3 separate regions of the Homo sapiens genome follow, and all the other regions are reported to be linked to region 2. The links are microRNA targets in miRTarBase. Many come from high-throughput screens and were not tested one by one. Region 2 holds a microRNA gene; each other region holds the end of a gene's coding sequence.
What was found. The annotated mature microRNA hsa-miR-8061 reads CUUAGAUUAGAGGAUAUUGUU and lies in region 2 at 2,316-2,336, opposite strand. An mRNA with a match to its seed (bases 2 to 7 or 8) in the 3' UTR can be bound and repressed. Matches are read on the target gene's strand: a 7mer-m8 pairs with bases 2 to 8, a 7mer-A1 pairs with bases 2 to 7 and ends in A, and an 8mer does both.

Region 1: miRTarBase lists ARL6IP6 as a target of hsa-miR-8061. Seed matches in the 3' UTR shown: 7mer-A1 at 1,748-1,754.
Region 3: the mRNA of SDR9C7 is a reported target of hsa-miR-8061. Seed matches in the 3' UTR shown: 7mer-m8 at 2,439-2,445.

The regions. Positions count from the first base shown.
Region 1 is chr2:152,759,522-152,762,786 of GRCh38, forward strand. ARL6IP6 (ARF like GTPase 6 interacting protein 6) reads left to right here. Exons shown (of 4, transcript NM_152522.7): 4 at 226-2,875. The coding sequence ends at 319. Among named protein-coding and RNA genes, the nearest start is that of ARL6IP6, 43 kb to the left of the region's middle.
Region 2 is chr19:54,644,390-54,647,654 of GRCh38, reverse strand. MIR8061 (microRNA 8061) reads right to left here and starts at 2,346; the gene lies at 2,272-2,346.
Region 3 is chr12:56,920,993-56,924,257 of GRCh38, forward strand. It overlaps SDR9C7 (short chain dehydrogenase/reductase family 9C member 7), which reads right to left. Exons shown (of 4, transcript NM_148897.3): 4 at 2,141-3,058. The coding sequence ends at 2,841. Among named protein-coding and RNA genes, the nearest start is that of SDR9C7, 12 kb to the right of the region's middle.

The sequences.
Region 1 (3,265 bases), not on the chromosome of region 2:
GAAACAACTGTAATTGTTAACCAGTACAGTTTTGACACAGGACTTAATAAGATCTATCCACTATTTATCCTGCAGATGTCCAATATTCTTTAAGTTTTGTATTCATATGTGAACATTTGGGAAATACACTCCAAGGTCATAAGTATTTTCGATGAAAACTTTTGGTGTCTTTGTTATACCACGTTACATTTTTCTTTTTTGATTTGTGTTTTTCTTTTTTTCTAGGAAACTGACTGGACATTCTTTCCACATGGGCTATAGCATGGCGATTTTGAATGGCATCGTAGCTGCTCTTACTGTAGCATGGTGCCTCATGTAAACCCACACTGGAGCGATATTGTTGGCAAAACTTAATCATGATTGTTTTGTAATAACAAGAAGGAGCATCACTGTCTACTCAGAAGACTGAGAAACCTGCTGTTCATTATGTAGTTCAGATATTTATCACAATCATCCTCATTATGGAAGACCTTTTAAAGCATTGTTTTAGAATGTCTGAGTATTAAGATACAGATTAATTGGGAATATCTGAGTATTAAGTACTTTCTTCAGAGTATAAGATGTTTACCTCATCTTTTTACTTTTGTGTGTGTAGTTCTTTCAAGTTGTAGGAAACATTTTAATGGAATTTAAACTCAAAAACTTGAATACAGGACAATGCTTGCCTTTTCATGTATGTACTACATTTTTTGCTAAGAAATACTGATATTTCTGTTTAGTTGAGCTAGAAATACTTCTTATTTATACATTTAGGAAAGCAAATAATGCCTACTACTCCGACTTTTATAGAAGCTACTTTTAAATCAGAATATTTAATTTTTGATATTCATATAATTAATAGAAGTTGCATTTATATTTTTTATGGGGCATAGTTCCTTATGTGTTTTTTTAATGTATTTTCATACTACATACTGAATTTGTATGTTTTTAAAATTGTTACATCTAGACAACTGTAAACATTATTTTTTTAGCTAGTGCAAACCTAGTACCTGCCATTTTTACTAATTTTTGTCTTTAAAAAAAGCAAAAAAGCACATTGACCTAAGTTGAAAATTAAGTAAGTTTATTTTTAACAAAAAATGCCTGAAAAAAGCTAAATTATTTAAGTCATTAAGATATTGAGAAAAAATTTGAAATTTTTACTATTTCTGTTTCCACAATTCCAAATATTTATCTTGGTGTATATATTGTTACTTTAACAGAACTTGCATTATTTTGTTTTTAATAAATATAAACATGAAATTTTTGTATGTGAGAATGATTGAACTAGTTTGTTCTTAATCTCAAAAATTTAGTTACCAAAGTAGAAAAGGTATTTTGATACTAGATATTAAAAACTACATATAGTTAATATAATTTTATAATTTTTGTAATTAAATGTGCTCCTGTAATTGTGATATTTTGTTTTCTAAGTAATTAAGCCTTAATTTTTCCCCTATGTTACTAAAGACTTTTAATGTTTAGAAAGTTACCTCAGTTTTAGAAAGATGGACTACTTACAAAGCTGTTTTCCCTGGCCATAGGAAAACTTACAATAAGAAACCATTAAGTAGTCAAACTGCTTATTCAGGCTAAGTGGGAAATGAATTTGTGCAGTGTGTTCCCTTAATTATCTACTGAATGTTGTTACCGACTAAACAAGGTTTCTAAAAGTCTCGCATTTCTTTTACTATTCAAAACTCTTTGGTTGGAAATGACTAATACTGCTCCAATTTAAATTATCTGAAATGTGTGTGTGTGTGTGTGTATCTAAATATCAATCCCATGGCTTAAGTATTCCTACCAGAGTGGTGGTTGCCATCAGTCTATTTTCACTCCCTGCCTTCCTTCCTGCACGCTTAAACTCTTCACCCTTTGACTCCAAAGAGCCCTTTCATTGCAAAGATGTACACAAGTAACAGAATCAATTTATCTTCTCTCCACCACTCTGTATTCCCACGCACCACCAATGTGAGTAACTCCCTCCAGATTGTTTGTGTCTAATGACTAGGAAAGTTATTAACAGTAGACCCTAGATAGAGATATGTACACCCTAGACAGTCATGTGCCATATAACAACGTTTTGGTCACAACGAACTGTACTTATGATAGTGAATCCCCCCGTAAGATTATACTGCTGCATTTTTTACTTTATTTTTTCTCTGTTTAGATACACAAATATTTACCATTGTGTTACAGTTGCCTGCAATATTCAGTACAGTAACATGCAGTACAGGTTTATAGTCTAGGAGCAATAAGCTATACCATATAGCCTAGGTGTGTAGTAGGCTATACCATCTAGGTTTGTGTAAGTATACTCTGATGTTCACACAATGATGAAATTGCCTAATGACGCTTTTCTCAGAATATATCCTTGTCATTAAGCCAAACATGACTATATATACCTACAAGATATATATTAATATAGATAAATATAGAGAGAGATGTATCCGTAAGATATTTTTGTGGAATCCTAATTCTTCTGGACTGTTACTCCCCTTTTTTGGGAAATGACCCTCCTCTCTCCAGTCTGACACAGGGTCCAAATATAAATCATCTATATGCAGAATGATTAGGCAAGGATAGTCACCTAACTCTGGCTGAGCTAATCCTAATCTCATTTTGCCTGGCTACAATGAGTAGAATAGAGAAATGACTTCAGTGAAGTATGTCTCTTCCCAGGATTTTTCAGCTTGAAATTAAGATGTGACGAAGCTGGGAAAATGCAAGCCCAGGAAATGCTGGCAGCTGTAGTTCAGCCAGGCTCAGTGGGAAAGAATAAGGCTGATAACGGATATTGCTAATGGCGTTACCCTGGTCCCTGAAGCCCAGTGGCAATCCTGCCATTCTTGATACGTGAGTCAATAAATTTCTGTCTTTTGGCCTTTGCAGTTTACATTGGCTTTTGTCATTTGCAACAAAACAAGTCAAAATGAGCTTATCTAGCAGCTGGAATCCATCTCTATTGTGAAACTGACTCAGATGATCTCATCTCCTTATGTGTAGCTTACAGCATTCTATTTAGTTACTTGTGAAAGATAAACGGGGTGTAAGTATTCCTGTGGCTAGTGATTAGTCTCAGGGACTTGAAAAGACATTTTAGAATAAATTAAACTATTATTAATCTTGCTGTTTCATCAAGAAATTATGTCCCCAAATTCAGTTCCACCTTAAGTGTTATCAGAAAGAATATTACTGTAGTTATCAAGATATGATTCTTTAGTTAATACAACGTAATGAGTTTGAACTACAACTGTTACTTAATATCTTAGCATTTCCCGGTTTC
Region 2 (3,265 bases):
ATCAGATCATTTGTGATAGCAGGATTGGACCCAAATGACATTATGCTAAGTGAAATGAATCCAACTCTTAATAGATAAATATCTTATAATCTCACATAATTGTGGAATCTAAATAGTGAAATTCATAGAAGCTGAGAGTAGAATGGTGGTTAGCAGGGGCTGGAAATGGGAAAAATAAGATGTTGGTCAAAGGATACAAAGTTTCAATTCTCCGAAATGAATAATTCTGGAAAGCTAATGTATGGAATGAAAGCTATAGGTAACAATACTGTATTGTACACTTAAAATTAGCTGAGAGTAGATCCTAAGTATTTTCACTGCACACACACATGCACACAGAAATAATAACTAACTGAGGTGATTAATATATGGTATTTCTAGTTCTAGATCCCTGAGGAATCACCACATTGACTTCCACAATGGTTGAACTATATTGTGGCACTATTCACAATAGCAAACACTTGGAACCAAGCCAAATGTCCAACGATGATAGACTGGATTAAGAAAATGTGGCACATATACACCATGGAATACTATGCAGCCATAAAAAATGATGAGTTCATGTCCTTTGTAGGGACATGGATGAAATTGGAAACCATCATTCTCAGCAAACTATTGCAAGGACGAAAAACCAAACACCGCATGTTCTCACTCATAGGTGGGAATTGAACAATGAGAACACATGGACACAGGAAGGGGAACATCACACACCGGGGCCTGTTGTGGGGTGGCGGGTGGGGAGGGATAGCTTTAGGAGATATACCTAACGTTAAATGACGAGATAATGGGTGCAGCACACCAACATGGCACATGTATACATATGTAACTAACCTGCACATTGTGCACATGTACCCTAAAACTTAAAGTATAATTAAAAAACAAACAAACAAACAAAAAAAACAACTCCGAGACCTGAGCAGGCAGACACACAAGCAGCTGGACGTCCGCAGATCAGCGGAAGAAGAAGACACTGGCGGCTGAGAGGAGCACGTCAGTGCAGGAACACACAGATGGCTGGATGTCGAGAGGAACGCAAGGACGGGCACCAGCACACCACAGGCCACCGACTGGCAGAACGACATGGAGCTTGGCTGGGACAGTCAGAGAGGATCCCGGGCCGCCAGGGGCCCGACTCCAGGAGAAAACCATCGCCCTTCTGCTGAGAGCTGTTTCCACTCAATCAAACCTTGCACTCATTCTCCAAGCCCTCATGTGATCCGGTTCTTCCGGTACACCAAGGCGAGAACCCTGGGATACAGAGAGCCGTCTGTCCTTGCAGGAAGGCAGGGGTCTAATGGAGCTGATACACACAAGTTGCCTATGGAAGGCCGAAACTAAAAGAGCACCCTGTAACATGCGCCCACTGGGGCTTCAGCGGTTGTCATTTTGAATGTGGTGAATTTATTTTTATCTATTTATTTATTTTTAAGTTTCAGTAGTTTTGGGGGAACAGGTGGTGTTTGGTTGCATGCATAAGTTCTTTAGTGGTGATTTTTGAGATTTTGGAACACCCATCACCCGAGCAGTGTACACTGTACCCAATGCGTAGTCTTTTATCCCTCACCCCCTCCCATTGCTCCCCCTGGGTCCCCAGAGTCCATTATATCCTTCTTATGCCTTTACATCCTCATAGCTTAGCTCCCACTTATGAGAACATATGATGATGGTTTTCCATTCCTGAGTTATTTCACTTAGAATAGTGGTCTCCAACTGCCTCCAGGTTGCTGCGAATGCCATTATTTTGTTCCTTTTTATGACTGAAGTATTCCATGGTGTGTGTGTGTGTGTGTGTGTGTGTGTGTGTGTGTATATATATGTATATATACGCATATATACATGTTTTTTATATGTTTGTTGGCCATTTGTATATCTTCTTTAGAGAATTGTCTAAAGTCAAAAGGGGAATTGGATTTGGAGGGAACAATTTTATGGCTATTTTTCAGTATAATCATCAAGTGAAGATAGTGTCTGTTCGGCCAGTGTTACTTTAATCCATTACCTGTAGCCAGGAAGGGAGATGTTTATCACAGAGATAGGCACCAACCTGGAATGCTTTCCTCAAAAGTGATTAACTGTAGTGTGAACCCTAAATTTCACCGCAGTTTGGTCCTGATTTGGCACAAGATATGCTTTATCCACTGATGTGAAATGCCCAGGTGTTTTTTGTACGGTTTTGTTGCTGAAAGACACAATACCCTCTAATCTAAGGCATCCTCTCCAAATCCCACTGAACAATACCCTCTAATCTAAGGTGTCCTCTCCTAATCCCACTGAACAATACCTCTAATCTAAGGCGTCCTCTCCAAATCCCACTGAACAATATCCTCTAATCTAAGGCATCCTCTCCAAATCCCACTGAACAATATCCTCTAATCTAAGGCATCCTCTCCAAATCCCACTGAACAATACCCTCTAATCTAAGGCATCCTCTCCAAATCCCACTGAACAATATCCTCTAATCTAAGGCATCCTCTCCAAATCCCACTGAACAATATCCTCTAATCTAAGGCATCCTCTCCAAATCCCACTGAACAATACCCTCTAATCTAAGGCATCCTCTCCAAATCCCACTGAACAATACCCTCTAATCTAAGGCATCCTCTCCAAATCCCACTGAACAATATCCTCTAATCTAAGGCATCCTCTCCAAATCCCACTGAACAATACCCTCTAATCTAAGGCATCCTCTCCAAATCCCACTGAACAATATCCTCTAATCTAAGGCATCCTCTCCAAATCCCACTGAACAATACCCTCTAATCTAAGGCATCCTCTCCAAATCCCACTGAACAATACCTTCTAATCTAAGGCATCCTCTCCAAATCCCACTGAACAATATCCTCTAATCTAAGGCATCCTCTCCAAATCCCACTGAACAATACCCTCTAATCTAAGGCATCCTCTCCAAATCCCACTGAACAATACCCTCTAATCTAAGGCATCTTTTCCAAATCCCACTGAACAATACTCTCTAATCTAAGGCATCCTCTCCAAATCCCACTGAACAATACCCTCTAATCTAAGGCATCCTCTCCAAATCCCACTGAGGCACAGGAGCGACACTAAGGAGGGGGTCACGGAGCTTCCTGAGGGAGATTCGCCTCCTGAACCCTGGGCAGATCCTCCCCACCTTGGGATCTCTGTGAACCTCTGGGGTCTTCTATTCAATCAGGACCAAGTTGTGAGGTGGGATTCCTTCCAGGCTACAGTCTCCCCTCTCCCTCTTTCAATTTCATCAAGACAGATCAGAGGTTTGCGGGTGGAA
Region 3 (3,265 bases), not on the chromosome of region 2:
AGATCAGATCACATTACTCCCCTACTTTAAAAATGGAGATAAAAATGATTAAGAAGCTGAATAAATGAACAAGAAAAGGCAATTCAAAACTCCAGGAAAATACAAAAGTTATATAAGAAAGGTGATGGTTCTAATATGAAATCAACCAAAATGTAACTCTGGAGCATATATGAATCTCAGCTCATAAGTTCAAAAAATACCTCAGCTATTAATGATGAGGTGGAGAGATGGCCCTCAGACCAAAAAATTAAGTCTTCTATCTTCTAAAGGTTACCACTTTAGTGTCTGCTGTTCCAGTCTACATGCCCTTTATATCTAGCAAATTTCTACTACCTTCCTGCCATGGTGGGACACATGAGTCTCCTGTGAGGTCATCTGAAGTCGAATCTGCCTAAACATACAATGTAGCTGTGACTCTCTTGAGTCTTGTCACCTCCCCATGGTGTGCCCCCAAGGTGCTCTAGAAAGTGGGCCCTGGTCCCTCCTGTCCTGGGAACCCCAAACATCAACTTCTTATCTCATCAGAGTGAATCTCTTTGTCATAGGGGAAAGTCTCTTTTTCTCTGAGTCATTTGGTACACCCATAAGTCACATTCTGTTTTACTTCTTTCCCACAACTCTATAATTTTTCTAAATATATCAGGGTTGGGGGAAACTAAAGCTGGAAAAAGTGCAGGAAATTTATGTGTTTTATCCCATCAAACATCTCACCCTAGGTAAAGAAGTACCAAATTGGCTATCTATTTGAATGGAAGAAGGGGAAATAAAAAAAAACAGGGAGGAATGAAAAAGTGTAAATTATTATCTCAAAATATTACCTAGCCAGTTTCCCCTTAGTAAATTTTTGTGTCTTCAGAAAATTTATTTTTGACCTTTGTTCAACCCTCTCAACAGCATAATGTCTGAGTTTTGCATTTTCCAAGGTAGTAGACATTGTGACTGATTTCCCAACATCCCATCTGTCCCGTGATTAATCTAAGCAATTCATGGCAATTTACCTCTTTGCCAGGGGTGGACAAGCCTAAACCAATTTGGGCCAATGAGATTCAAGGAGACACATGATGAGGGCTCTAAGAAAGAAACTTCTTCAATGTTGAATGCTGTGGAAAGGCAGGCTCTTTCTTCTTCTCTAAGTTGTGAATGAGGAAATGTAGAGTTCCCTTTGCCTGGCAGTCACACCACAGCAACAAAGGGTAAAGATAAAACTGTGGGCAGCGGAGCAAAGAAGTAGAAAGAGCCTACAGCCTCAATGCCATCATTCAGCCACTGGGCCCTGCCCTCACTCTTCATTGTCTAAGCCAGTGTGAGTTGGTTTTTCTGTTACTTGTTGAATGCATTCTATCTGATTTAGAATTTGGTGCCAGGAATAGAAGTGCTGCAAACAACAAACTGTAGTGAGTTGCACAGTAGCTCCCTAAAGATATATCTATAAGCTAACCCCTGGAACCCGTGAGTGTTACCTTATTTGGAGTCTTTGCAGATGTACCTGGATTATATTTTATTATTTTCAGATGTTGAAGAGACCCAAATTAAAGATATTTTAGTTAAAAAAATCACATTTGACCTTTATTACATGACCATTTATCAAGATAAAAAAAAAAGTCTCTTCCACAGAACTTCATATGACCCAGGAGTTTAAGTCTTTTTTTAAAAAAAATTAGTTCAATGACTTATTTGACAGTGTTACTAATTTGAGAAATTGATTTTCCTATAACTGAAAAATAATCCTGGTCTGGGAGTCTGAATGCCTCATTTCTATCCTTGTCTTAGTTACTAAACTGGGGGCTTGGGTAGGTCACTTCCCCCTCTGAGTGTTAAGTTACTTATTCTATGGAATTATTGGTGGCTCCAAGTTGCTCGGGTGCATCAGAATCATATAGGTCCTTGTTATAAACACATATTTCTGGACCTTATCTCAGTCCTACTGAATCAGATTTTCTAATATTGGCACAGGAGTCTGTATTTTTTAATTGACTGGGTGATACAAGGTACAGCCAAGCTTGTGAAGTATTGGATGAAGACCTCCAGGGTCCTTCATAGCTCTAAAAATTTGTATTCTGATTTCTATTCCTTCTATCGCTGTTTGTCCTAACTCAGCTACTAGATATTGTGCTAAAACAAAGCAAAGCAAAACACAAAATAAACAATAAAAAACCAAGACCATGATTTAATCATCTTTATATTCCCCCAGCACCTACAAAGTGCCCGGTAGGTAGTAGGCACTCAATAAATATTTGAAAAATTAATGGTGATTAAATAAATGAATGTTATTTCATGTGGATCCCAATAACCTATAGATAGAAGAATCTAAAAAGAAAGAAAATATTTTAAACTTTTGTCTGATTTAATCTTGCACTCCCTATCTGCCCTACCGCATACTTCAGTAATGGGTTATGTGAATGAAGTTATGCATATTGAGGGACCCATTAGGAAGGTGGTTAGATTCTCCTGGAGGCAAGATTATCCCACAGTATTTCTCAGTGGCAGTGATAACTGAAAGGGGCTCATGATTCCACAGGAGCTGGTTTTCTTCTCCATGACTTTTCCAGGACCAGAAAAAGCTGTATCCTGATTGGGTGACAGACGTCCTTGGAGCTATTGCTGCAGATCGCTGAACCTGCAAAGACCACCTCAGGTTTCTGTGGGGTCCCAGAGGGTGGGAAGAGGCATTCACCTTCTGTTAGAAGTTACTGGTAAATTCGACAGCAGTGGGTGTCAGCTGAGCCAAGCTTCCTTTGCAGCCAATGCCCCCAGGATAACCGATACCACCTTTTGTGACCCCACGGTCCTTCCTTCCTCCCCCACTTCTAGGCTCCACTGACCCATTGATCCTCCCCAGTTTAGACACTGTCCGCTGGCCTTGGAAGGTACCGGCTTAGGATGAAATCTGTCACAGGGGTGGGCAACTTAGCCAGAGGGATGTAGAGGAGTTTGGCATCCAGGCCAGGGTTGTAGCGGATGCGAGGGCTCCGGGAAACAATAGCATGCTCCATGCTGTTGATGACATCTCTGACTCTGGGCTCTGCCACCTGCATTATGTTTTTTAACTTGTCAGTATCTGTTTGAGGGCAGAGAGGGGAAAAAGGCTCTGTTATTCTTCATAAAAGATGGCTTCTTCCGAATTCCATCCAAGTTCCCTTTCCATCAGATCCCTGATCTAACATTTCAGGCAGGTCCGCCACACCCTCCAGGTGGTCCCTTATACAAACACACATTTATAAGACTATTATAAATAATCTTAGCCTGGCCAACATGGTGAAACCCC